Homo sapiens: one gene and its partners. The protein of the gene in region 2 interacts with the protein of the main gene of each other region in a pairwise test. Each region holds a gene or a part of one and is shown on either strand. Other genes may lie near its edges.

Region 1 (7,025 bases), on a different chromosome or scaffold from region 2:
CTGGGGACCCTGGGCAGCTCCTGGCCTTCTCTGAGGGCACCTAGGGCTGTGTGCACCTTAACACCCCTCCCCCACCCTCCAACCTCCCCCAGCTGTGCACAAAGAGGGCAGGGCCGGAGGCTGCACCACAGTCCCCACCACCAGGACAGGCAGTGAAGGCAGCGCCTCTGCCCTCGTCCCCACCTAAAGGAGCTGCCCGGCCCAGCAGACGCCCCCCTCCACCCACCTTCTTGTCAGGTGTCCTGCAAATTCCAGGCTGTGTTTGAGGTCCACTGTTGGTCACACTGAGGCAACAAGCAGCCTCTGAGTTCACCTGTTAGCCACGTGGCTCCTCACACAGGCCCCCACCTAAGCCTGGGCAGATGGTCCTACTCCTAGCAAGCAGGCGCCTGGCTCCCAAGCAGAACCTTGTGATCCCAGCCTGATCTCCCGCGTCCAGAAGAGGTGGGCAAGGCCAGGTCACGTGAGGAATGCCTCTTAGCTTTCTGCTGCTCAGGAATGGCTGTCACCAGGACCACCTCTAGGAAGAGCGGGTCAACCGGATGCAGATCCCGCTTCCTGGATCCCTGGCCTGGAGGCAGGTGGAGGCCAAGCACTGCCTTGCTCCTGCCCCAGGGGGAGGCGCTCTAGCTCTGCCAAGTCCAAGACCAACAACACACATGCGCGCGCACGCACGCACGCATACAAACTCTCACATATGATTACTTTTTTTCCCTCAATTCAAACCACCCCTGCAGCAGGGCCTGGCTCGGAGCCTCATTCCTTTCCCTCTGCTGCAAGAAGTGCCCGCCTTGGATGCTGTGTGTGGAAACGAGGTGAAAATGCTGGACCAGGCTGGAGAGGAGCTGCCACTCACCAACCTCAGAGCCTGGGTTTGGATTCCATCTCCCCAGGCTCTGAACCAGCTTCTGTCTCTGTCTTTTCTAGAATCTTAGATTTGTCCAACCAGAAGAGACCGCAGGGGTGACAAGACCCCTGCAAACTGCCTCTCAGGGACCCCCACAAGCCCGGGAAAAGAGGAGCGGCCCATGGGACTCACCATTTCCCTGCAGGAAGATCAGGCCTATGACCATGCAGAGGGGGTGCGCGTTGAACTGCAGGTCGCTCTCCCAGGCAATGCCGCCTCGGTACAGCCCGAGCCACGCGCCGGTCATGGCCACCAAGGTCAGGCCCAGCAGCTGGGAGAAGGCCACGTAGTAAGGCAGTGCTGTGGGGGTGGCTGCCGCGGCCCCGCCCTCCATGCTGAGGCAAACGCTGCAAGAAAGAGCAGAGCTCAGAGGAGCAGCGCACAGCACCCCGAGATGCGCACAGCCCCCGCGGATGCACACAGCCCCCCAAGATGCGCACAGGCCCCCCGAGATGTACACACCCCTCAAGATGCGCACAGCCGCCCCCGGAGATAAGCACGGTCCCCCCAGATATGCACAGCCCCCCCCGAAATGCGCACAGCCGCCCCTGCTAGATGCGCGCAACACCCCCCCCGGGTTGCGCACAGCCCCCTCCAGATGCGCACAGCCACCCCGCTAGATGGGCACAGCCCCCCCGAGATGCACACAGCACCCCCAGATGCGAGCAGCCCCCCTGAGATGCGCATGTCCCCCCCACGGATGCGCACAGCCCCTAGAGACTGCGCCTGAGATGCGGCGCGGCTCCTCCCACGGCGGCCCCGCCACCCTCCCCCGAGGCTCCCGCTGGAAGCAGCGCTCGCTCTCCTACCCGCAAGCCCCTTCCCACCCATCGTCCTGAGGCAGAGGTCTCAAGTCTCGGGAGTGGCTGGGGGGAGGGGCCCAGCCTCCCCACGGGGACAGGCGTGACCTGGGACACGACGCCAGGAGTTCCATATGCGGTGAGGGTGCAAGGAAAGATACCCCAAATTCTAGTGAGCTCAAGGGCCCAGTGCCCGGCTTTGTTTTCTGTTTCATGAGGCCCTGGCCTTCCCTGGGTGGGCTTTACAGGTGAGTTACACAGGCAAGCGCGCTCCTTGACGGGAAGGAAGGGGCTGGTCACACCTTTTCTCCAGACGCGTCATGAAGTACATCTCGGGAGAAATGGGAAGTCTCCCTCCCCCATCCTGGTTTTTAACTCCATGCTGGCGATGAGGAGGCCTCCCCACCCCACACCCAGGAGAGCCAGCCCCGCTCCCCCCACGCCCCCGCCCGCCCCCCACCCCGCTCCCCGCCCGGCCGCGCCTGCAGAGTAGAAGTGCCCCGACCATGCTGCACACAGGGACCTGTCAGCACACAGGGACAGGGCACTTCCCCTCCACACCAGGGGCGGGGCGGACCCGCACTCTAGAGGGGCCCTCAGGGAGGTTTCCAAAACTGAAGGCCCCCAGAAACGAGGCCTGCGAAGGGGCCGGGTAGAGCTCAGCACGGCTGTCCCAGGTGCTCGGCCCCACGTGGCCCTCCAGGAGGAAAGGAGAGCGGGTGGTTCCTAGCGAAGCAGCAATGAGAAGGCCCCGCTAAGAGCCCAAGGGAGTGCCCAGTGCCTGCACAGCTTCATGCCGGCCGGAGAGCACCCAGCAGCTGGGGATGGGAGGAGAGGCGGCAGGAGGAGAACAAGCGGGGCTCTCCCCTCACCCGGCAGCGGCCTGTGCGCCACGGAAAAGTGCTGCCATGGCCCACAGTTGCCACTGCAACTGCCACCACCATGGCCACCACAAGCAGACCCCAGAGCACTGCTGCTGCCCCCCATCCCGCCCCGGTTCCCCACTGGCCCCTTGCCACGGTCCAGCCTCTCCTGGCAGCAACTGTATCAGAACTAGGGGGACAGTGGCCAGCACAGGGGCACTGACCCCCTTCACACCCGGCACACGCTCTGCCCTGCAGTGCCCAGGAGCTGGTTTTCAGTCCCTCCCAGTGATGGGCTCCTTCTCTGCTCCCCAGTTCTCTCTGCCACATCGGACAACTGTTGGCAACTCCACCATTAAAGGGGGGGTGTGTGTGTGGGCCGGGTGCGATGGCTCACACCTATAATCCCAGCACCTGGGGAGGCCAAGGCGAGTGGATCACCTGAGGCCAGGAGTTCAAGACCAGCCACAACATGGTGAAACCCTATCTCTACTAAAAATATAAAAATTAGCCGGGCATGGTGGCTCACACCTGTAATCCCAGCTACTTGGGAGGCTGAGGCACTAGAATCCCTTGAGCTCAGGAGGCAGAGTTTGCAGTGGGCCAAGATCGCACCACTGCATTCCAGCCTGGGTGACAGAATGAGACTCTGTCTCAAAAAAAATTTTTTTTAATTAAAAAAAAAAGGGTGTGTGTGTGTGCTAATAATCCACACGCACTGCAGTAGAATATGGATCAGCAAAAAAGGTAAAATGACAGGCCATCAGAATTTGATCTATATCCTCACACACCTTCTTCCTAAAACACATATGCATCCTTTTATAGAAGCAGGATCATTTATTCCATTTTCTAACCTGCTTTTTAACTGAGGGCGTAGCACACATGGATGTTTGTGTCAATGGATACGCGCCCACATCATCATTTTCGTAACCTCACACTCTTGCATTGCACGGCCATTTTTTAGCCAACTAGTTCCCATTGTTCAGCATTTAGCTAGCTTTCGATTTCAGTTTTCCACCAAATAAACAACAGGATGTGGTCATCTGCAAACTTCTCTGCAGGGAATCCTGAAACAAGGGCTAGGTTCTGTTTTAGACTTCTGACACATTCCATCAAATCATCTCCCAGAAACATAGCTCCAATCCACATTCCCAGGGTGGACGGGAATACGGGATTCCAGAAGCCCCAGCCAACAATAAATCCTATTTTTGGAACTCCTGCCTCTGTCCTTATCTGTCACCTACACGGGTATCAGTTCTGTCCCCGCCACCCCAAATTCAAGCCCCATTTCTGACGGTTCACTACTCATCTCTACCTGGACATCCCACAGACGCTTCAAACCCAGCTCGTCCCAAGTCACCTTCTCTCCCATCGTCGCCAAGTTCTCTCATGCCCTCCCCACTAGCTAGCAGGGCTGCCCTTCTTCCGGGCCCAGGTGACACCTCAGCTCCTCCACAGAAGGCTGCCCAGGCCGCCGCATGCTGGCACCCCTCCCCTCACTTCCCTCCTGAGCATCCTCACTGCCCCACCCAAGTCAGGGCCTGCAGCTTCTCCCTCTTCAACGTGACAGACATGCCAGGGACAAAGCCAGCTCCCAACATCATGCTGTCCCCTGCGTAAGTGCCCCCGAGTGCCAGTGAAATGCCAACTGCATGGCATGATCCTGCCCGTTTCCATCTGCAGCCCCCACTGTTCCTGCTAGGCCCTCTAGAGGAGACGCCTGGGCTCACAGAATCCAAGGACATGGCCCAGCCTGGCTCCCTGCTGTGGGCCCACACCCCTGCCTCCACTCCTCAGGCACCGCGGTGCGCAGATCACTCTGTCCCCAGGCTCTCCCGGAGCCTCCTTACCCTCGCGGTGCCCTGTCTGCTCCTCGAAGGCAGGGACGCTCTCACTCCTCCTTGGGTATCTTTGGGTCTCTAATACCCCGAGTCTAACAGGAAAATGTACTGAAAGAAGTGCTGTCCCCCCTGGTCACTTGTTGTCTGTCCTCCTCTCCAGGTCGCCGCCTCCTTTATTAGATTCATCCCCAGAGAGCCTGGCTGCAGGCAGAATCTGATTAGCTACAAATTAGGAAGAACAGAGGGGACATCACCTCTCCCTCTGCTGGGTGACCCGGCAACTTCCTCACACCTCGTGGAGTACAAAGGGCAGGAGAGGCCCGCAGAGCGAGGGGCCGCTGCCCACTCCTTCCTTCCCACCAGGCTCCCTGGAAGACAGTGGACATCAGAGCCAGGCTCTCTTCTCGCAGCGACGACTGCCTGCGGCTTCAACATCCTACAGTGAAATGCCCGGCCTGGCCTCCCGGGGAGTCGGAACCATAACATTGTTTGCTCCCCACCATGGCAGGGCAGACGTGTGCTTGGTGTGTCAGTAGGGTGGGGACCCAACAGCCTGTGAGCACCTGCTCTGTGCTGGGCACTTCATGCCATCTCTAATGTCACCCTTAAATGACACTGTGTGGATAACAGGAGCATTGCCCCAATTTGACAGGCCAGGAAATGGAGGCTCAAAGAGGACAAGCGACAGGCCCCCAAATTCCCATCAGCAAATAGCAGCTCAACTCAACCCGCAGCCACCTGCACTTGGCCAGGTGCTAGGGCCACACAGAGGGGGCCTGGTCCCTGCCCTAAAGGGGCGTGCAGATGAGCTTTGGTACAGACCCAATTTTCAGGTAAGGGTGGTACAAGTTCAAGCCAGGAGCTAATCTGGGCCTCCAAGACCCGTCCCAGCATGCACACGGAAGACGGCACCCCTGCTTTGATGTCTGTGGGCAATAGCATCTCTAGCTCTCCTGCCGAACAGTGGCTGCCTGCTCGTGGCTTTGGCCTTTCCAAGGCCCAGGAACTAGGGTGGTGCTGTCAGTCTTTCCAGAGACTGAGGCCAGCAAGGGTCTGTGTTGGAGCTCACTGAGGAAGCTGCTTTGACGCAGGGGAAGCTCCCGGGCGGTGCCCCCCCTCCTGTGCCAGTCCTCCTGCGTCCTCCCCGCCTCGGTTCCACCATGGCACTAAGCACTGGTGCGTGCAAGACAGCAGGCCCTGACCGAAGGCAAGAGGGAAGGGGTTACAGGAGGGCAAACAAGCCGAGGAAGATGCATTTCCATTTGCTCCTAAGGCGGGTGCCCTGGCCTAGGCAGCCCAGGCACCCGGGGCACCTGGGCATCTGGGAGGAAGCCAGAGATGAACAGCGGCCTCTGGAATGACAGCAGCCTGCTTCTGATTCAAAGGCGAGGCTTCAAAATCTAAGTGTAAGGATGAAAGGAAAGCCCATGGCTGGCCTGCAGGCGACCACAGTCCGTAGGTTCTGAGCGTGGCTCTGTGCTTTACAGGAGATAAGCGGAAGATCCCTTCCGCAACAGGACTCTCGTGAGGCCATTCATTGGACATAATTGATAACCCATTTGTGTGCAGGGAAGGGCTGTCCCATGCCAGAGGTGGGGGTGTACAGGGATAGACATTCTGGTATCTCTGGACAGAATCTGACCCACCCACAAATGTGTCTGCTGCATTTGCAAACCTGGACATTGGGTGAGATTTCTCCCTAGGAAGCAAGGCTTTGAATCGTGGCCCTCATTTCCCAGTCTTGACAGCAAGAATACTCTCTCGCTCTTCCCTCCTCACTGGGCAGCCCTGGGACACCGGCTGTTCTTGGGCCCTCTGTGTTCTCAGAGCAGAACTGTGGGCAGCAGCTTCAAGGCCTGGAAGCTGCCACTCCCCACCCCCAAGGGCTCCACTGCCCTGCAGACCAGAACCTTGCAACCAGAGGGAGCTCACGTAGCCCCTCACACAGTCACTTGCCTTCCTCTGTGACAGCTCAGGATGAGGGTGACAGATCTCTGGCAGTTTCTGGATCTTAGAGCTGTGAGAGTCACCCTCGTCCCCACCCACTCACCCTACCTGCAGCCAGAATCCACTTAATGCAATCAGCGCATTAGGGACAGCATGACCCGCAGATCTTCACTGAGCCAAGCATCGCTCTCCCTCCCGGTGCCCACTGCGTTTTATTAAAAGGCAACCAAGACTAATCTCATTATTGGGGACCAGACACTGCACATGGTGCACAGCCTCGGGGGCGGAAGGCGGAGCAGGGGAGGCTGGGAAGCGGGCAGCCTGGGCTGGCTACAGCCCTCCTTATCAACAGCAGAGTTTGAATTGAGTTAGGAAAGACTGTGACTGCGGAAAGGCCGATATCTCTTCTTGATGGGTGAAGGGGAAAACAGCTCAATTGCCCTAGAGCGTCCTAGCATGTGATGAAGGAGAAAGCAAAGTGTGGTGTGAGCTATTAGGGTACTTTCTTAGCACCCCAGTAGCCCCAGGAAGAAGGGGCTTCCCAGGCAGTGCTCCCCATCCCATGCCAGTCCTCCTGCATCCTCCCCACGCTTGTACCAGCATGGCACTAAGCCCTGGTGCATGCAGAGACACCAGGCCCTGACCAAAGGGTAAGAGAGAAGGCATT
Region 2 (7,025 bases):
CCAAAGTTCATTCTTTATCAAAAACATCAATATCTTCTCCAGCTCGAGGGGAAATGCCGATTAATGTGAACCCTCTTTTTCTTGTTCTTGTCCATTTTCTTATCAATGTGTCAACGGTGTCAAAGCAGAAGACAGGACAAAAAGATGAGCGTAAAAAGTCCAGATAAATCACAAGTAGCCACAGAGTATGGTGGTAAATATGTGAACTCTAGAGGCCAGCTGCGCAGTGAGTCTTGGTTAACAGCTGAGTGACTGGACACACTGCTTAAACTCTCAGTTTCTCCATCTGGTAAATGGGTATAATAGTAGCACCTATCTCACAGGGTTTCCATGAGAATTAAATAAGTTAATGTTTGTAAAAACACTTAGGACAATGCTTGGCACATATTAAGCACTATATAAATATTTGTTAAATAAATCCTCAGTTTGAAATTATTTTAACAATCACACTCTGTGTCTGCTGACCCCCAAATCTTACTAGCAGTTTCAGGACCTAGAGGCATTGTGAGGGTTTCTATACCACACCACACATACTGTATCCTCCACTATGAACTGCTACCTGATAATTCATTTTATAATTCCTTCTCATAAGGAGTAGACAGAAATGTACTCCTGAATCTCTCTCAGCAACAGTCCCCATTGCTGCAGCCACACACACAGTGAGAAACGGCCTCTCTGCCTTACAAGACAAGTTCTGTGAAACCACAAAAGTTCTTGTCTGCCCACACATTACAAATTCTACCTGTAACCCAGAATTAGAACTGGGGAGGTGGGGCAATAGGCCACCTACTTCAGAGAAAATAAAACAAAGGGAAAATTCTACGAAACCACATGTCTTCTTGGTACAGGGCTCACAACCTTTCTCTCCTCCCTTTTTTTTTTTTTGGTTTTGTTTTTGTTTCTTAAGACAGGCTCTTACTCTGTTGTTCAGGCTGGAGTGCCGTGGTGTGATCACAGCTCACTCAACCTCAACCTCCCGGGTTCAAGCGGTTCTCCCACCTCAGCCACCCAAGTAGCTGGGACTACAGGTATGCACCACCATGGCCAGCTAATTTTAGTATTTTTCATAGAGATGGGGTTTCACCATGTTGCCCAGGCTCTTCCTTTCTTTCTCAATTTTACTCCAATCAGGCTCTTGGCTATACCAAATGTGATGATCTCAAGATCAGCACAAGTCCACCACTTTGGTAAGGCCAGCAACACCTGGTCTTACACCACCTCTCAGGGGTACCAACACTGCTAATGCTTCCTCTCCTCGATTGCCTTCTTCTCTTTCTTCTAGTTCCCCAGAGTCTCCTGGGTTTTCCATCCCTTCTAGGGCTCCTTTGCTGGCTGCCCCTTACCTCCTGACCTCCTTACACTGGAGGGCCTGCCCTACGGCTCCATCCTTGGTCCTCCTCTCCTTCATATCCACATTCACGTTCATGGTGAGCTCACGCAGTCCTGTGATTTAAAATACCAGTTTCCCCCCAGGACTCTCAAATGTACATCTCCAGCCCAGACCTAAATCTTGAATTCCTGAGTCAAACATCCAACTGTCCACTCAATAAAATTGCCACACCCCTTGGATGTCTAATAGGTTCCTAAATTTAGCTTGTCCAAAACCAAATCTTCCCCCAAAACCTCCTCCTCTTCAGTCTTCCTCATCTTGGTTAATGACATTCCCCACCTTCTCCTCCACCTCTCATCTTCCCCTCTACCTTACCCATCAGTAAATCCTTTAAAAAATATCTGGAATCTGGCCAGGTGCAGTGGCTCACACCTGTAATCCCAGTACTGTGGGAGGCCGAGGCAGGCGGATGGCTTCAGCTCAGGAGTTCGAGAGTAGCCTGGGCAACATGGTGAAACCCTGTCTCTAAAAAAATTACAAAAATTAGCCGGGCCTGGTGGCACAGGCCTGTAATCCCAGCTACTTGGGAGGCTGAGGTAGAAGGATCACTTGAGGCCAGGAGGTGGAGGTTGCAGTGAGCTGAGATTGCACCACTGCACTATAGCCTAGATGACAGAGCCAGGTCCTGTCTCAAAAAAAAAAAAACAAAAAACAAAAAAACAGAATCTGACCATCACCTTCAACTACCATCTGGCCATGGTGATCTCTCCCGAGTACTGAAATACTCTATTAACCCATTTATGCCAGGGGTTGCAAATTTCTTTTGTGAAAAATCAGAACTTGTCAATGACCTTGAGCAGTAGGATATAAATAACTCCCACAAGCTTAGCATTCCAATAATGGAACACTAGGCATAAATAGGTTAAACAATTTTCCTGTTTTTGCTATTGCCTCATTACAGCAGTGTCTTAAAACAGTAGCCAGAGAGATACCATTAAAATATAAGTCAGATCATGTCACTCCCCTGTTTAAAACCTTCCCATAGCTTCTCATCTCACTTGAGACTGGCCCAGCCAACATGGAGAAACCCCATCTCTACTAAAAATACAAAAATTAGCTGGGCATGGTGGTGCGCTGCCTGTAATCCCAGCAACTTGGGACGCTGAGGCAGGAGAATTGCTTGAACTCGGGAGGTGGAGGTTGCAGTGAGCTGAGACGGCACCACTGCACTCCAGCCTGGGTGACAGAGTGAGTGAGGCTCCGGCAAAAAAAGAAAAAAGAAAAAAAAATGAAAAGCTGAAGTCCTTATAACCACATGACCCTACATTATCTGAGTAGCCCATCCCCTACCCCACCAGCTCCCTGACCTCATCTTCTCCTACTCCCTCTGCTCGATCCATGCAGCCATAGTGGCTTCCTGGCTGGTCAGGGCTCCTGTGCTTACCGCTTCTCCCACCTGGAACACCCTTCCCCAGACACCAGTATGGTTCACTCCCTGACTGCCTTCACACCTCTGCTCAAAAGTCATCTTCCAGGCATCCCTCACAACACTTTTTTAAAGTGCAAACGATACCTGCTTAGCTTAGCACTCTCCAGCTCCCTTCCCTGCTTTATTTTTCCTTCCTTCCCTGATTGATTTTTCCACAGGAGACTCATCTTATTTCACTTAATTTGTTTACCCCCATTAGAATACTTATTTTATCTTTCCTTATTAGAGTGTAAGCTCCAGGTGGGTGGCGATTTATGTCCGTTCTTGTTCACTGCTGCATTCTTACTGCCTAGTAAGTGCCTGGTACACCACAGATGCTCCGTAAAGATTTGCTGAATGAATGGGAATGATGGCTTGCTTGGGTCCTCTTACCTACCTAAGACAGTCATCACCGTCTTCATTAGCTTCATGGGTGTCCTCCGGCGGCTGATGGACCCACTTGTATGCGGAGACAAGACGTTGGTTTTCCTCTTGACGTACACGTAGATCCGCAGGTACACCACAACCATGATGAGGAAGGCCATGAGGTTGGACACTGTCCAGAAAACAAGGTAACTCCTGCTGTAAATGGGGGCCAGGGAAGAGCAGGCAGAGATGTTGCAGAGGCAATTCCAGCCCAGTGTGGGGACCGCCCCCATAAAAATGGCGATGGCCCAGACAAGCAAAATGAGCAGTGTCACCCTCTTTTTGGTCAGGTTGCTATGGACCCGCATCCTCATGATTGACATGTGCCTCTCCACGGCGATAACCAGCAAGTTGGTGAGGGAAGCAGTCAAGCTACTGTCCAGAAGCCCCTGACGGAGAAACCAGCGGTTGACAGTCAAAGTTTTTGAAACTGGGCCTGTGTTAAACATCAGGAATACATAGGCAATTCCAGCGAAGAAATCGGCAGCAGCTAAATTAGCCAACAGGTAGTAGAAGGGGAAATGAAATTTTCTGTTTTTGATCACTGCCGCGATGACCAGAGAATTAGAAAAAAAAATAAACAGGCAGAAAAACGTCCCAACACACAAAACAATCACAAGCTTTGTTCCTGTCCAGTCATCGACAGTATCAGTGTTGCTCCTATTATAAAAAAAGTCCATGTGCTTGTCATAGTGACACTCATTCATTGTGGAGAAGTGAACATCCTAGAAAGAAATTTAAAGAAGAAACAAATATCATTTGTAAAATCAGTCACTAAGCCATCAATTGCTGTTTCTAAGCCCGTTCTGGCTAACTCCCATCAAGGGAGTTGAAGACCTGAAGTGTCAGGTCTCAGTGCAAATGTCCTTTGGTCCAGGACATAGCCCCTGACCTCCTACCACAGCATTTAGCGCACATTTTAATTGTTTGTTTCCCAGGCTAGGCCGCTCAGGTTAGGAGGGTGTATCTCTATTTTGTTCACCATTACAACCCTAGGATTCAGTTGCTCTGTCTGCCTCATGGTGGGTAATTATTGGTAGGTTGGCTGGCTGGCTGAATGAATGAATGAATTCTCATGGAGGCATCAACAGGGCAAATGTGCTGAGCCCTGCAATATCCACTCTGCACTGGTAACACAATGACAACACATTATGTTAATGCCTCCTCCTGGCTCCCAGTTCATTAGTTATTTATGGATATGTTCATTAATCAACGGCAGGTTGGTAATTTCAGGTACATTCTTCCCAAGATAATAGGAGTTGAATTACCATTCACATAACCAAACAGATACCCCAAGAGACCAGTTTTCTATGACTTCTGATTCCACTCCTGATCCTCCTTTTGCCATCTTTTGGTTTCAACAAACAACTCTGATATTCACATATTAGGTATATGATGCAGGGATGGAGACTTTGGTCCCAATATCTCCCTTCCTTACCTTTTGTTCACTTCTTCCTTATAGTCTCCTAACCCAAACTGTACCAATGTGAACCTGCTCACTGGATTTTCCAGCATTCCTCAACACGGCAGGTGGAGGAGGATCGGGCTTCCACAGGCAAGACTGAGATTTGGAATTGGGGCAGATCTCCAACTCAATGTGGATGTGAGAACATATCTATTAAGTGAGGGCATGTTCTTCAGACACTTGTCTGAAAGAAGACCCCAAACTGGGATATCAGGCAGACAGGGAAGACACTAATCCTCTCAGTAAAAGATCTCTTGAATCCCAAAAGCGAGGGATCTTGGCCAAGGAAGGGCTGGGCAGAAGCCCCACGGATGCCCATCTGTCTACACGTGGTGGGGAAAACCAAGTGTTCTGCCTCACAGTGGTCTGGCCACAGCCATGAACGGTCCTACGGAAGAAGATTGGGCTTAGGGTCAGGGTTCTAGCTTCTTGGAAGAATGACCATCTGCTCCCTCACTGAGAATGAGGCTGCAGCTTATTCCCTGGAGAACCAGAGATTCAGTCGGCAGAGGGACTGAGCAGCCCTCTGGGAGCTGTGACAGTAAAAGCTCAGTAAAAGCCCCCAGATTTTAAAGTTCCTGAAAATTCTGAAATCTAATACCACAACCAGAATCAAGAAGACCAGATAACTATTAAGTAGTACAAAATAGAAATGTATCTCAGTCTTTTTTTTAATTTATATTTTAATGGTATAATGATACTTTTACATGAATTAGATATTGCTTTTTGGCCATAGCAAATGGGAGGTAAATATCATTTTATATGCTTAAAAAAAACTGGGAGTAGTCTCAAGAGACAAATGGTTCCAGTATCTTTCAATTACAAGAAAGGAAGACTCAATTTTCATAATGACAAAATAAAAATTACTCTCTTTGGCAGACAGTCACCAATATTTAACTGTAAATATCAAATAAATTCATGATAATATCATATATTTACACTATATCATAATTTCCCCAAATTAAAAATACAGGTAGTATAATTTTAATAGCTTCACAATATTCTATTATATGAATAGGCCACACCTGACTTAACTAATCCTAAATACTGGACATTAGGGTTGCTTCCTGTATTTCACTTTTATAAGCAAGGCTGCATTCTTGTTCATTAATCTTTATATATCTAGCCAATTGTTTCTTTAGGAATAACCCATAGATTTCAAATTGAAGTAAAGGATATAAATCTATTTAAGGGTTTCTGATACATCTTGTGAAACTCCACTTAAGAGAGATAGCATTTTTTTTTTTCCAAGATGGAGTCTTGCTCTGTCGCCCAGGCTGGAGTGCAGTGGTGCAATCTTGGCTCACTGCAACCTCTGCCTCCTGGGTTCAAGTGATTCTCCTGTCTCAGCCTCCTGAGTAGCTGGGACCACAGGCGCATGCCAGCACGCCCGGCTAATTTTTGTGTTTTTAGTAGAGACGGGGTTTCACCATGTTGGCCAGGATGGTCTCGAACTCCTGATCTCAGGTGATCCGCCCACCTTGGCCTCCCAAAGTGCTGAGATTACAAGCATGAGCCATCACACCCAGCCTGAGAGATCATATTTTTAATTCTACCAGCAGCATATGAGAGTTAAATACAAGGTGCTAATCTAGTGATACTCAATTTAAATATTTAAAGAGAAATACAGCTTTCAACCATGTTGAAAGTATACAGAAATTCAAGACAAACAATCCGAGAATCACTTGCTATGGTCTGAATGTTTGTGTGCCTCCAAAATTCATGTTGACACCTAACCCTAACTGCAGTGATATTAATAGGTGGGGACTTTGGGAAGTGAATGGGATTAGTGCCCTTATTGAAGAGGCCTGAGAGAACTCGTGAGACCCTTTTTGCCACACTGCCATTCAAGGACACAGCATTTGCCCCCTTCTGGAAGCAGAGACCAGGCCCTCACCAGACACCAAATCTACTGATGCTTTGATCTTGGACCTCCTAGCTTCCAGAATAGTGAGCAATAAATTTCTGTTATTTATTAATTACCTAAAGTATTTTTATTATTGCAACAGGAATAGACTAAGACACCACATGGGAAAATTTAATAATACAATTATTATGTGTCTTTTCTAATTAAAAATAATGTATATATTTTACTTTGTTTCATGCTCTATACATCTAAGAGAAACATTTCTAATTTAAAAGTTATATTATCTTTGACTAATTTATTAGAAATATAAAGATGAATATGTCACAAAGACATTGGAATTAAGACACTACAAAAATACTACTCAAATTTTCCTAATTTTATTTTGAAGGATCTTAACATTTTAGTTTTATTTCTTACATGTGGTCGAATTTTTAATTATATCAAGCACTAACACCTCAATGATTTTTAC
Region 3 (7,025 bases), on a different chromosome or scaffold from region 2:
ACCTCCCGAAGTGCTGGGATTACAGGCGTGAGTCACCACTCCCGGCCTCAGGTATTCAATACATATTGATTAACTACCTACTAGGTGCCTTACAATGTGCCAGGCACTATGCTAGGAACTGGTAAGCAAAAAACAGAAATACATAACATGGTTATGAGGTGCCATTTTGAACTCAGTCTTGCAGATGAACTTCATTCAGAGAGAAACTGAACTGGGAACCAGAAAGCTGTTGGAAAACTAGGAAATATTCTCTCTATGTACTTCTCATTGTGAACTAGTTTCCGTTTTCTTCTCAGTAAATCAGCTTTTTCTGCAATATTAGCTTTTCTAAAATCAATTAGCTTTTTATGCAATAAAACTTTGATGGTAGACTGAAGGTGACCACTTACAAGCTACTAAGTTCATATGTTACTGTTAGAGCCACACTGAGAGACCAACTGCTGCTGTTTGTCTCCCTTTGATCTTTTATTTTAACTTCAAAGTCTTAGGAAAGGGATCGAGCATCCATCCTTGTCTTAACAGGCAGTCAGTTATCATAGAGTTATTGTGAGTTGAAAAAATACTCCAAATGGTATCTACAGCAAGTATTATGCATAATTTATAAAAGAAAAAACTAAAAGTTTAAGTTACTTTGCAAGTTCATGTGTGTAATGAGTGCCAGAAACAGGATTCAAATCCTAGGATTGTGCAAGTGCTGGGTCACTACATGAAAGTGAGTGCCTGCTTAAATTTTGCATCTTAGGATTTTGGCTTGCCTCACCTTAGTCTCAGCTCTGATAATGCTTAATAGTTCTTTTTGCTATACATGCATCTGCTTACTAAAATTCAGCACCTTCACAACTTTCAAAGAAATGCAATGTTAAAAAAACAAAGTTTCAAACATTCAGACACTAAAACTTTTTTGCAAAGAGAAACAGTATATAACTATATATGCTCTTATTGAATTTGTATACTGTTATATAACTTACCTCCCATGAGATTCTACTAAAAGCAGAAACTTACCTTCCCATTCTGTTGGAATATCCCCTGCTTCATAGTCTACTTCTTTTTTATTTGCTGCTTCTACAATTCTTTTCTCTCGAATAGTTTGTCCTATAAGACAAAAGTCATTAATACATTTTTAAATGAACCTATGATACAGTAGTTCTACAATTAATCTTTGAATATTGCATAACCCCTTATATAGTAAAAGAATTAAATTAACAGGAAAACGAGAATAGATTTCCATTTTGAATTAGGTATATTACAAAAGGCAAATTCTAAACTACTGTAAAAATTTATAATTATTTACCACAGCCTACAAAAATTAAAGGTAGGCCAGCCGCAGTGGCTCACGCCTGTAATCCCAGCACTTTGGGAGGCCGAGGTGGGTGGATCGCCTGAGCTCAGGAGTTCAAGATCAACCTGGGCAACATGGTGAAACCCCATCTCTACTAAAATACAAAAAATTAGCCAGGCATGGTGGCACACACCTGTAGTCCCAGCTACTCTACTCAGGAGGCTAAAGCACGAGAATCACTTGAGCCCGGGAGGCAGAGGCTGCAGTGAACCGAGATCGAGCCACTGCACTCCAGCTTGGGCTACAGAGTGAGACTCCATCTCAAAAAATAAATAAATAAATAGATAAATAAATAAATCTAGATTTAATGTACAGAAAAAGAGCAACCAATTAATCCTATAGAGCACTAATGGCCAATAAAAAATATTTTAATAATCAACAGCAAGTTCAACTTCTTCTGACTTACATGTATATATCTTAGAGGAAGCAATGGCTGCTGCAATCACCCAAGAAAATCGATATTCATTGCTGTTACTAAGTATGTAATGGACCACAAGACCCTGCAGCCACCCTCTCCCTAATACACTGGCAAACCCAAGGGAGCCAAGCCATGGGTTGAATTCTGTGGCCCATCTGAATCACTTCCTCTTAAGAGAATTTAACAAAACTGGTCATTGGTTTGGTTATGGCTATGGTAGACTGATGGTGACCACTTACAAGCTACTAAGTTCGTATGTTACTGTTAGAGCCACATTGAGAGACCAGCTGCTGCTGTTTTGTCTCCCTTTGATCTTTTATCATAATTTCAAAGTCTATGGTTCTTCAGATGAGAGATTAATATCTGGAGTGGAATAGTAGCAATGCAGAAACATGAAACAGAGAGAACAGTAAAGTAAAAGTTGGTGAGAAGTCAAGAATGGAATGAGAATGCCTAATGCTTATATTTCTCAATAAAAGTTGATTAGTGCATATTTTAAGTTTATACAGAAGGCATAAAACTAATTGTTATTTTCTTCTGTTTTCAGAAAGTCTTCATTATATCTTTCAAAGCAGCTTTATCAAAATGGTTGCTTCAAAACATGTTTCTTTCTCACTGAACCTTTGAGCCTGGGGAAACCAGGTAGGCTTTCTACTTCCTACTATTTAACAAGTGTGCCTGCCTACTCCAGGGAATGTGAGCTGAGACAGAGAAGTCATTAGTGAGGAATGATAAAGGGAGCAGCATGGCTTAACAGTGATCAGACCAGTCAGGGAGAGAAATTTGGACCTTACAAAATACTCCTTTCTCTTACCACTCCTAAGCCAATCTTACACTATGCTAAATATACTGACTTACATAATTAAAGAAATTAACCTTGATGCCTGCAAATCTCTCTCCTACACTACCTGATATTCTATTAGCTGTAAATTCATTTAAGTGTGGACAGGAAACTCCTGGGAGTGACTGTGCAGGAGAAAGGACGACATAAAAGGAAAGCCTAAGAAAGCTGAATGGCTGGTTTTATTTCTTCCATCTTAGTAATATTAAGTGAAAGGCTGGGAGTTCATAGACAACCCATTAATGGCTAATAAATCTTAAGTATGTGGTCAGGAAGTTCTGCATTTCATTATGAAGTCATTTAATCAGGCTGATTTAATCCTAACGCAGAGGTTCCCCAAGTTCTACAAAGAGGAGTTACCTTTTGCTTATCTTACCCAATAAATTTACAGTAGGACAAGGGACTGATACTAAAAGTGGTAGGAACAAGGATTAGGGTACAAGGAGCATATAACAATGACAACTGCATTTCTCTCACAGTAGAGGTTCAATATATGTACATGTATGTTTACTAAAATGCTATTTACATTCACATATATAAATACATCATAACAAGTTACTATAAATTTAGTATTTATAATTTAGCATATATTAAAGTAAGCTTATGTGACAATTTTCAAAATGTGTTAGTCAAATACCGATGTCTTCATGTAGTCCTTATCTAATTACCAAAATGTAAGAATGTTTTTTGGAGTAATAGTTATAGAAAGGAAAACTATTGTCTAAAATAAAAATGCAAATACATGGGATCCTCAAAGTACATGTATGGTCTATAAGTTTTTAAATGTACATCCATAAAGTTTAGCACATGGGGAGAGGATAGACAGGTCTATCGTTCTCAGTAGCACTACTAAATGCATATATACTACAGGCATATCTGCAACAAAAAAAATAACTTTCTATTCCTACTCTTAGGTCGATCAACTTCATGTAAGGTCTCCCAAGGATTTAAAAAATCAAAAGTTATGCCTATTTGTGTGTATGTGAGTGCGTGTGTGTGTGTGTGTGTGTGTGTGTGTGTGTATGCAAAGACAGGAAGAGTAATTAATGAGCTAGTTTAATTTCAGGACAATCACTGAATAAACCTTTATTTAGAAATAGTTGAAATAAAGATTTTTTAAAAAAGTATACATCTTTAGTAATATAAAATAAAGCTATTAGCTTATTAAATAAATTCTTTGTAATCAGATATGTTTATCTCCTCAATAAATCACTGTAAAACTACTCCCTTTTTTTGGAATAAATACTACTTGTTCAATTTTTATGAATTGGGAATGGAATTTATGCCTCCCACTGAGTAAGGAATTATGCACAAACTGTACACTTACTTATACTAATATGCTTTCATGCAATATTTGTAAAGACAACTCTATTTATCACAGCAAAAAAATTTCCATCGTAGTGAATACAGCAAATTTAAGTACCTGCTCAAGCATCAAAATTTTAGGTTCTAATTTACATTTAAAAATTAACTTGGTGACAAAAACATTTAATCCAATATATGTGTAGGTTCAATAAGTCCTAATACAACAAAAATAATTGACATTGGTGGACTCAATGAGTATTATTAAATAAAACAGTACACAGTTGTTTTATTTAATACTAAACAATATTATATTTAATTGAAACACAGGGTTTGAATTCAGGAAGGTAGTAATGGTCAATAATCTATGTATTTAAAGACTGTAGATATAACAGTATATTTTTCCAAACTTTAAAAAAAGAAAAAGCTAGCTGCTGTTGAGCTAATTGCCTTAGGAGGATGGTAGATTTCCTATTTCTTTGTTTAGAAATATATGGAGCCCATTTAATTTTAAAAAAAGAAAGAAAGGAAGGAAGAAAACATAATAAAAGGTGAGATCCCAAGGCATATCGTAGATGACAAGGGTTTAGGTAAAAGACAGGTTTCACATGTACTACTGAGCTTCTGGGACAGTGTATGAGCACCCTGGACACAGATATGGGAAGGAGCCTCTAGAGCAGAAACCTAAACTTCAGCCATTCAAGTACCATCTTTGCAATTTTTGCCATACTTTAGAGTACTATAACCTAATATTTTTCTTTACAGTGATTTGCATTTTTCCTCAATACTCATTTTTACCTTACTCTAAAAAATATTCATGTAATCACTGACTTAATGTGCTAGTTGTGTTTTTTGCTCACCCATAAAAATAGATTTAAAAAATTTAAAGGGTTGTCTTTGTGTCATCTAAAGTCATCTTATAGACCACAGTTGGGAAACCACACTGCAGACCACACTGGGTTGTAGAGACAGGCCCAGCCACACATATGGTGTTACAGGGCATAGAAACCAATACAACCAGCAGGAAACTCCTATGGACAGGTAATGGGTGTTGAATATCAAAGTCTTGCTTGGATTACATTTACCCTTGATTTCAAAAAATCCTGTAGTTCACAACAATGTTTTGTTAGGTTTGAAGGAAGAAGGGAGAGGTCCTAGATTTCCAGAGTCAGGAAAAAAAAAAAAAAAAAGCACTAACATTTATGGCATGTTTACCATGTGCCAGATATTGAACTAAGTTTTAGCTCTGCATGAGTAATTTCATTTAAGCTATACAATGCTATGAGGTACTATTATTACTTCATTTAAATAAACAATTTGTACATTTCATTTATAAAGAGATTGAGGCTTAAGAGAACTTAAGACATTTACTTGCTAGCAAACAGATATCAGGATTTGAACATGGGTCTTTTGACTCCAGATCCTAGACACTTAACCACTAAGATATGTTGCCAGACTTTCAGATGACTACAAATGTTACATCTACAAACTGACATTTCGGTTGGTAAAATACAAGGGCTAAGCTAAAAGTAAAAGAGTAAAAATCACTATTTCTTTCCAAAAAAGAAAAACCACTGCCTTTCATTAAGGTGTTTCAGAATGTGGAAGACACATCTTAAATCAATTAACTTAATCCTAATAATAGATTCATTAAAACTTCACTGAAGAAAATCTGGAAAATACCAAAAAGTAGAAAAAAATAAAAATGACCTGTAAGCGCGTGACTCAAAATATCATATTAACATGTTATTGTTCCCTTTCAGACTATTGTAACTAATAGATTATAAATACACAAACACATATACATGTGCGCATGTATTTATGAGATTAAAATTGTACCTATATCCTTTTTCCTACCACATGGAAAATATAAAGGTTTTCATGTCATTGTTGCATAACTTAAAAAGGAAAATCAATATTCAGTTTCTGAACTTACTCTGACATTCTGAGGAAAAAGAAATTTCTTGTAAAAGTGTGTTAATAACATTTCTTTTGTTCAATTGTGTTTAAAATGTGAAGATAAAAGTAAAAAAGATTGCCTTGTTAAGCATAGGCAGTAAAGCAAGTTAAAAAATACTAAAAATGAAAATGTATGCCAATTAAAGATATGTATCAGATATGCTATACAAAGGAAGTTTTACAAATTAAGGCAGAACTTCAAGATCCGGGAGGAAGAAAGAGGTAAAGTATAGTGATCCATACATTCTTTATGTTAACATGTAATGGATTTATTAGTGATATTTTAAAATGAATTAATAAACACTTAAAAATCTCACTTTTATGTATTTAAAATAAATTTCATTGTATATATTTAAGGGATATAACATGATGTTGTGGGATATGAATAGACAGTAAAAAGGTTACTAGAGTGAAGCAAATTAAAATATGAAAACATGCTTATCATCACTGGCCATCAGAGAAATGCAAATCAAAACCACAGTGAGATACCATCTCACACCAGTTAGAATGGCAATCATTAAAAAGTCAGGAAACAACAGGTGCTGGAGAGGATGTGGAGAAATAGGAACACTTTTACACTGTTGGTGGGACTGTAAACTAGTTCAACCACTGTGGAAGTCAGTGTGGCAATTCCTCAGGGATCTAGAACTAGAAATACCATTTGACCCAGCCATCCCATTACTGGGTATATACCCAAAGGACTACAAATAATGCTGCTATAAAGACACATGCACACGTATGTTTATTGTGGCACTACTCACAATAGCAAAGACTTGGAACCAACCCAAATATCCATCAATGATAGACTGGATTAAGAAAATGTGGCACATATACACCACGGAATACTATGCAGCCATAAAAAATGATGAGTTCATGTCCTTTGTAGGGACATGGATGAAGCTGGAAACCATCATTCTCAGCAAACTATCGCAAGGACAAAAAACCAAACACCACATGTTCTCACTCATAGGTGGGAATTGAACAATGAAAACATATGGACACAGGAAGGGGAACACCACACACTGGGGACTGTTGTGGGGTAGGGGGAGGGGGGAGGGATAGCATTAGGAGATATACCTAATGCTAAATGACGAGTTAATGGGTGCAGCACACCATCATGGCACATGTATACATATGTAACAAACCTGCACGTTGTGCACATGTAC
Region 4 (7,612 bases), on a different chromosome or scaffold from region 2:
GTGACGCAATCTCAGCTCACTGCAACCTCCACCTCCCAGGTTCAAGCGATTCTCCTGCGTCAGCCTCCCGAGTATCTGGGACTACAGGCGAGCACCAACATGCCCGGCTAATTTTTCTATTTTTAGTAGAGATGGAGTTTTACCATATTGGCCAGGCTGCTCTTGAACTTCTGACGTCAAGTGATCTGCCTGCCTCGGCCTCCCAAAGTGCTGGAATTACAGGTGTGAGCCACTGCACCCAGCCACACAGCAAATATATCTCAGTTGAGCTGAGCTGACCCTTCAGATTTCATTTAAACAAGCTTGCTTTGAATATTTAAAATTATTTAAACTGAAGAGCTATCACTTGTCCGTAATATTTTACTGTGTAAAGCAAGGCATACTTTTATTATTCGGCCTCATAAAGAATTTACGAGCCCCTATTCAAGACCATTCAGAATGCCACCAGATCTCTTATTATCAGTGGGAGGCAGCCTATGACGGCCTAATCACTTCTTGTCTCTTCCCAAGTCCCCAGCACTCTCCTTTTTTGACTCCTTTTTTCCCCTCTTGATAATCACAGCCTGAGGTCTCTACTGGACTATAAGCTTTGGGGTAGCAACTATCTCCTTCGTTTGCATTGCTGGCCCCTAGCACAGTGGCTGTTATGTAGTTGTTGCATACTAAACGTTAAGCAAATAAATATCTGATACTAGTAGTTCAAGACAAAGCCTTCAATTTCTCCATTGAGACAACACGCTAAAGGTGGGTAAGTCATTGTTTAGTCTAAAACTGTCCAAAACTCTCAGTAATTATTCCTTTAAAAAAGAAACATCTCACCTCAAAGCATCACTTTTAAAAAAAGTTCTCACTGATACTCCATTGTCTATTTTAATAGTTCTAAGATTATTTCTATTTTTCCCCTATATTTTGTTTAAAGTCCCACAAAAATCCCAAAGAGTTTAAGTAAACTTGCTCAAAGGAACACAGCTCAGAGAGCCTCAGGTCTCCTGGATTCCCATGTCCATGATCTCACTACACGGTACTGTCGTAGGACAGCTCCCAGATCTTTCACCCTGTAAGTTGTTATAGTTATGGTAAGAGCAAATGTCTTCAATAACGTGCACAAGTGCTAAAGTTTCTTCCAAACATTTCCTAGGGCTTTTATGAGATTCTGCGAGGGGAGAAACTCAGAACAAGGTGCAGCCACCTCAAGGTGTCCAAGTGTTTCCCTCTAGGTTCACAAGTCAACTAGCTTTACTTAAAAATGAAACCAAAGGAACCAAATTAAACATTAACTTGTTAAAAAAAAAAACACTTCAACCAGACTATTGTGAAGTAAGAACATTAGAAGACCAAGGAAAGGGCCATAAAGAGGAAATTTTGCACTGCTTGCACTGCTTCTTTAGGAAAAAAAAAAGGTAAAGGTAAAGTTAGCTTCCTCACGTCCTTTCTTCCTGTAAATTCCAGGTTGTCACTTTCAGCCATTGCTCTGACATTGTTTAAACAGTAAATGGCAGTTCCCATGACACAGGATGGAAACCATAACCTTCTCAGGTATCCGTACTAAAAATGTTTAACTTGCTGAAAACATCACTTCCCAATCTAAGGAACTTGCCAAAGGATTTCACATGCTAACCCTCGGCCCACCAGGCTTATAAGGAGGACATTCTGTGGAAATTAATTGGTTATTACCTAAGCCAGCTGCAACACACTATTATTTATATATAAACAGCTATAATTTGTTGGGGTCTGCTTTGTACCAGACATTATGAGAAGTCTTTTGCGCTTTAATCCTCATTATTATCCTCATTATTAATCCTTATTTAATCCACCTTATTATCTGAAGTAGCTATAATCCCATTTTACTGGTTCAGAATGTTTAATGTGCCTGAGCACCCACCGTTAATAGAGGAGACTGGTAATGAAACCAAGGATTTGAAAAGTTAGGTACAGATTGAAAACCCACGCCGAATCCAGTGACACTAAACAGTTGAATCTCTTCAAAATATAACACACATGTCAAAATGATTTTAAGGTCATTTCAGAGCAGGCAAGACTTGAAATAGAGGACCGGCAACATTAATAAATAAAAAAGACTACAGGACATAACATTTTGAGTTGGTTTCAAGCCGTGGATAATTAATGATTATCCATACCTCTGGATGGATGTTGACAGGGGTTCCCCGCCCCTTATTTTCGCTGAGAAACCAAGTCTTCCCTTCCGTAAAGGGAGCAGCTCTGGAATGCCACACGTTGAAGGGTTTCGGTGTGGGCTGCCCAGAGCTGGGCTGTTACTGTTCACACATCATCAGTAAGTGCCTCTCAAAAAAAAAAAAAAAAAAAAAGAGAAAGAAAAGAAAAACCACACACACAAACACACACACACAGTCCCTCCTCCACCAACTGAACTTCAGCCCTGACCTCCGGAGTGGTTCTGGACAATCTGGGGTTTAACCTGTGCCCTTCCAACGCCAGGACCGGGGTACCCGAAATGGGTTGCAAATGAATGAGATGACTGCTCAGAGGAAGGAGACTAAGGCACACATCTCTCCTCCAGACCACAAAATCGAGGAAGCATGCCCTGGGCGGGGAGGGTGGGGGCCGGATTAGAGCCACGTCCCCGCTTCGCAATCCACCTTTCCCCTCCCGCGCTTCGGAGGACTCTCCGCTCCCCAGCCCATCCTCCTCCTGGCCCCTCCGCGCGCTCCTTACCCGCTGGTGGCCAGGGCTCCAGACACTCCCAGCTGAAGGCACTTGCTCCCGGGAAGGGGATTTGCCAGGGGATGGAGCCCGCTGCCGCAGCCGCCGCGACCAGCCCCGGGCGTCACCACCCTCGGGCCGAAGCCGCTAGAAAGTTTGCTCGGGGTCTCGCCCTCCCACGCCGCGGCCTGACTAGGGGAAGCAGCTCTCCGGGTCCCTCCCGCGGCCGCCGCCCCCGAGGCCGCACTCGGCGGCGCTGCAGCACCGGCCAGGCTCCGTGCGCGCCGAGGGCTGGGTCTCCCCGCCCCACTCGGCCCACGGCGCGGCGCTCAGTGTTGACCGCGGCCCCGCGCCCGCTCTCCCCGCCCGCCGCGCGCGGCCCGCTCCCTGCGCCCTGCGCCCAGCGCGCTCTTGACATCATTCATTCTCTCACACCCTCGCCCGCCCACTCCATTTCCAAACAGTGACTCACCCGTCGGCCCGGTGGCAGCAGTGCCCGTTCCTGCTGCCGTGGCTCTCCTGGCGCAGAGTGGAGCTCGAAAAACCTGCGCGACTTCTTAAGAAGAAAATCCCAGCCGACTCTCCCCTCGCGGCTGTTTAAGGTGCAGAGAAGGAGGGGCTTGGCAGGCAGGGCAGTTTGGCTCCCGGCCGAAAGGCTGAGGGCCTGGAGCTGACCTCCCTGAGCGGCAACAGAGATCAATCTGGGAAAGTTCTTTGGGTGCCACTCCCAGCAACTTTCAGGGGTGGGGCTGGAACGGGATCCCCCACCCCCGCACCCGGCCTGTTTCGGAAACTGCTTCCTGACGGCGTGTGAGTGGGCTTGGGAGCGCCAGCGTTGATTCAGAGGGTTTATCGGTGTTGACCGGGCCTAGGTCAAAGAGGTGGGTTTCCAAACCTCACAGCGTTGCCTGGCAAGGTTAGTCATCAGTCCGCATGGTATGAGCTGGAAGGTTGCTCCAAGCTAATGAGGTGGCAGCACTGTCCCTTTCGTGCCTAACCATCGTGTCATTTGTCCTGTTAATTGATTTACTTCTCACTTAAGGAATCGTAACCAAAATAAACAGTGTAAGTAGTTATTTGCTTAACTGAATACTGCGCTTTTCCGCAGCTTTTGGGGCCCAAGGCAGCCGTGTGGTTTCTTCGAAGGCCTCAGTAGTTTTTTAAAAGGGGGATTGCTGTCTTTAAAATGGTAATGGTTCTACATTGTCCTGGAGTTGCTATTCATACACCTGCTGGGCAGTTTTCAAAGTAAACGATGGCAGCCTCAAGGACTCTAACTAGGAATGACCAATCCGAGGGAATGTGGCTAAATCTTTCTTGACATAAGTTTTACATTAATGTCTCCTTCTGGACAAGATAATTATGTTTAGGATTTGCGCTGGTTTATGGGTGCTTCCATATAATCAACAAAAATAATGACGGGAATCTTTGGGTTTCTAGTGCAGATATCATGTGGGTCAACAGTCATTTGTGGCTATTAAAGATGATGGTAACAGAAAAGAATATACAAGGCAGGCAATCCCCAAACTCGCAACTTCAAGATGTCGTCACAGTACAGGCAACCAAAGAAAATGGACAAATGGGATCATATTAAGCTAAAAAGCTTCTGCACAGCAAAGGAAACAAACTGAAGAGACAACCCACAGAATGGGAACTATCCATCTGACAAGGGATTAATAACCAGAATATATGAGGAGCTCCAACAACTCTATAGGAAAAAAAAATCTAATAGTCCGAGTAATAAATGGGCAAAAGATTTGAATAGACATTTCTCAAAAGAAGACATACAAATAGCAAACAGGTATATGAAAAGGTGCTCAGGCAATAAATACTGGCGAGGTTGTGGAAAAAAAAAGGAACCCTTGTGTTTGTGGGAATGTAAAAAGTATAACCACTATGGAGAACAGTATGGAAGTTCCTCATAAAACTAAAAATAGAGATACCGTATGACCTAGCAATCTCACTGCTAGGTATATATGCCCAAAAAAGGAAATCAGTGTATCAAAGAGATACCTGCACTCCTATGTTTATTGCAGCACTACTCACAATAGCCAAGGTTTGGAAGCAACCTAAGTGTCCATCAACAGATGAATGGATAAATCGTTACATATACCCATGGAGTACTATTCAGCCATAACAAAGAATGAGATCCTGGCATTTGCAACAACATAGATGGAACTAGAGGTCATTATGTTAAGTGAAATAAGCCAGGCACAGAAAGACAAATTTCACATGTTCTCACTTATTCATGGGAGCTAACATTTAAAACAATTGAACTCATGGAGACAGTAGAATGATGGTTACCAGAGGCTGGGAAGGGTAGGGGGGATGGGTAATGGGTAAAAAATATATATATAGTTAGATAGAATGAATAAGGTATAGTATTTGATAGCAAAACAGGGCAACTACAGGCAACAGTAATTGTGCATTTTAAAATAACTAAGAATATAATTGGTTTGTAACATAAAGAAAGGATAAATGTTTGAGATGGTAGATATCCCATTTACTCTGATGTGATTATTATGCATTATGTGCCTATATCAAAATATTGTGTGTACCCCATAAATATACCTACTATGTACCTACAAAAATTAAATTTAAAAAAATTTTTTTGAGATGGAGTCTTGCTCTGTCGCCTGGGCTGGAGTGCAGTGGCTTAATCTCAGCTCACTGCAACCTCCACCTCCTGGGTTCAAGCAATTCTCCTGCCTCAGCCTCCCGAGTAGCTGGGATTACAGGTGTGTGCCACCAACCCTGGCTAATTTTTGTATTTTTAGCAGAGACAGGGTCTCAACATGTTAGTCAGGCTGTTCTCGAACTCTTGACCTTGCGATCCACCCTTCTCGGCCTCGCAAAGTGCTGGGATTTACAGACATGAGCCACTGTGCCCGGTCCCCCCAAATTTTTAAAATATAAAACCAAAAAAAGATGTTGTCACAATACAGAAGTTTCCCCCAAATGAAAATGCTCCTAAAATTAACCAAGGGCTCAACATCATTGTTGTGGAAAATGGACTCTTTTAGAGCTACTTTTAAAGGTTAGAACCCAGAGGAGACCACCAATCGAAAGTTATTGTCCTGGGGTTTATTTTTCCCCTTCAATAAGGAGCTCATTTTCAAATTTACAAAGCCCAGGCATTTTGCCCAGAAGGCAATAGCAAATGGATTGGTTTGCTAGGATGCAGTCAAAATTCAAATCAGCAGTTTTTATAGACAATCACAGAGCTAATTCAGAAGCATGGGTGTCCTATCCATTGGTAACACTGAATGACTAGATTCAAATGTATAGCCATCTATAAGTAAGTTTGCGTGAATATCCCACCTACTCCCTACTTCATGATCCAAATATTTGGACATTATGGGATAAGTCTAAATACAATTTTCTACAGATCTCAATTGATATTGTGGGCTTTTTGGCCTGTGTACATGGATAAAGTCAAAAAGCTCCAAACAAAGCTTGCAGTTCTGCCTGCACTGTTGGCTGATATAAACCCTGTAGTTCCCTCATAAGCCTCTGTGTGGAAGGCTGTTGAATGGGTAGTTTTGAATTAGTGGTTACTATTGTGCCTCAGTTTAAATATTGTGAAATAAGTAATTAGGTCATTTTATTATACCATTTAAATATCCCCAAGTACATATATTAAATAATATAATTGATAATGGATGATACGAAGTTTTTTCAATCTATTCATTATCAACATATGAGAAAGCAAATTACTCATCTTAATTTCTATGTTTTAAGAAATAGTAACATCCTTTTCACAGAAAGATGATTTTTTTTTTGTTTTTTAACTGCACCTTTTGTTCTTACCATGTATGAAAAGTGACAAAATTTGCAATTCATCACCTTTCAAAAATAATGGCACTGAGTGTTTCAAGGGAGAGAAATGGATGATAGATAAGTGTGTTCTTGTCCATTGTTTTCTCCAAGGCAGCATAAATCAAGTTTTACAGGTATTTCTTTGATTTGATAAAACATACTGATTTAGGAAAACATGTAGATCTATAGTACTTATTTCCTCTTACAGTAACTCGAATCTGAACATATCTAAAGTCATTTGCTCAACCCACAAATTTGTATTGAATTCCTACTTTGTGCCCATGGCTGTTTATCTAAGAATCTCCATGGTCCGGGCACAGTGGCTCATGGCTATAATCCTAGCACTTTGGGAGGCCAAGGCAGGCAGATCACGTCAGGCCAGGAGTTCAAGACCAACCTGGCCAACATAGTGAAACCCCGTCTATACTAAAAATACAAAAAATTAGCCAGGCATGGTAGCACATGCCTGTAATCCCAGCTACTCAGGAGGCTGAGGCATGAAAATCGCTGGACCCTGGGAGGGGGAGTTTGCAATGAGCTAAGATCCTTTCACTGCACTCCAGCCTAGGCAACAGAGCGAGACTCTGTCTCAAAAGAAAATAAAAAAGAAAAAGAAAAAGAATCACCATGTTACCTTCTAAACGAACATATGTCTCAGGAATTGAAAGGTTTTTCTTTTTTTAATTTTGCATGAGGATGTTTATTGCAGGATTTGCAGATCAGTTGGGATATGAGGATGAAGCCAAAGATGACTTCTATATTTTTTTTGGTTTGAGCTCTTTGGTGGATGGTGGTGCCCTTTACCAAGACAGGGAGTGCTGAGACAGCAGCAGCTTTTGGGGGGCAAATGATGAGTTTCAAACTTGATGAGTTTGAGGTGTGAGATGTATAAATGAAAAGTGAGCAGCTGATGATACTAGTCTGGAACTCAGAAAAAGAGGCATGGACTGGAGATACAAATTTGAGAATAGCCAGCATGTAATAGTAAAGGATTCCACGGAAAATCAACCGAGATTGTCTGGAAATATTAGAGAGTGAGAAGATGTCCAAGGGAAAACCCATTATAGTTTAGGTAAAGTAGGAAAACATCGCAAATGAGGCTACAAATACA

What was found.
Region 1: the proteins of LPAR3 (region 2) and CYB561 interact in binary tests that used the Homo sapiens proteins (3 or more experiments, as listed by UniProt).
Region 3: the proteins of LPAR3 (region 2) and NDUFAF2 interact in binary tests that used the Homo sapiens proteins (3 or more experiments, as listed by UniProt).
Region 4: the proteins of LPAR3 (region 2) and SGMS2 interact in binary tests that used the Homo sapiens proteins (3 or more experiments, as listed by UniProt).

Annotation. Positions count from the first base shown.
Region 1 is NC_000017.11:63,436,307-63,443,331, forward strand, and holds part of CYB561 (transmembrane ascorbate-dependent reductase CYB561), read right to left. Parts: intron 4,522-7,025; exon of another isoform or gene 4,421-4,521; intron 3,962-4,420; exon of another isoform or gene 3,894-3,961; coding exon of another isoform or gene 3,886-3,893; intron 1,255-3,885; coding exon of another isoform or gene 1,242-1,254; coding exon 1,040-1,241; intron 1-1,039. UniProt on the Homo sapiens protein: Transmembrane reductase that uses ascorbate as an electron donor in the cytoplasm and transfers electrons across membranes to reduce monodehydro-L-ascorbate radical in the lumen of secretory vesicles.
Region 2 is NC_000001.11:84,862,190-84,869,214, forward strand, and holds part of LPAR3 (lysophosphatidic acid receptor 3), read right to left. Parts: intron 3,950-7,025; 5' UTR 3,932-3,949; coding exon 3,196-3,931; intron 1-3,195. UniProt on the Homo sapiens protein: Receptor for lysophosphatidic acid (LPA), a mediator of diverse cellular activities. May play a role in the development of ovarian cancer. Seems to be coupled to the G(i)/G(o) and G(q) families of heteromeric G proteins.
Region 3 is NC_000005.10:61,067,192-61,074,216, reverse strand, and holds part of NDUFAF2 (NADH dehydrogenase [ubiquinone] 1 alpha subcomplex assembly factor 2), read right to left. Parts: intron 1,093-7,025; coding exon 1,003-1,092; intron 1-1,002. UniProt on the Homo sapiens protein: Acts as a molecular chaperone for mitochondrial complex I assembly. Complex I functions in the transfer of electrons from NADH to the respiratory chain. The immediate electron acceptor for the enzyme is believed to be ubiquinone.
Region 4 is NC_000004.12:107,820,336-107,827,947, reverse strand, and holds the start of SGMS2 (phosphatidylcholine:ceramide cholinephosphotransferase 2), read right to left. Parts: upstream 3,017-7,612; 5' UTR 2,695-3,016; intron 2,277-2,694; exon of another isoform or gene 2,139-2,276; intron 1-2,138. UniProt on the Homo sapiens protein: Sphingomyelin synthase that primarily contributes to sphingomyelin synthesis and homeostasis at the plasma membrane.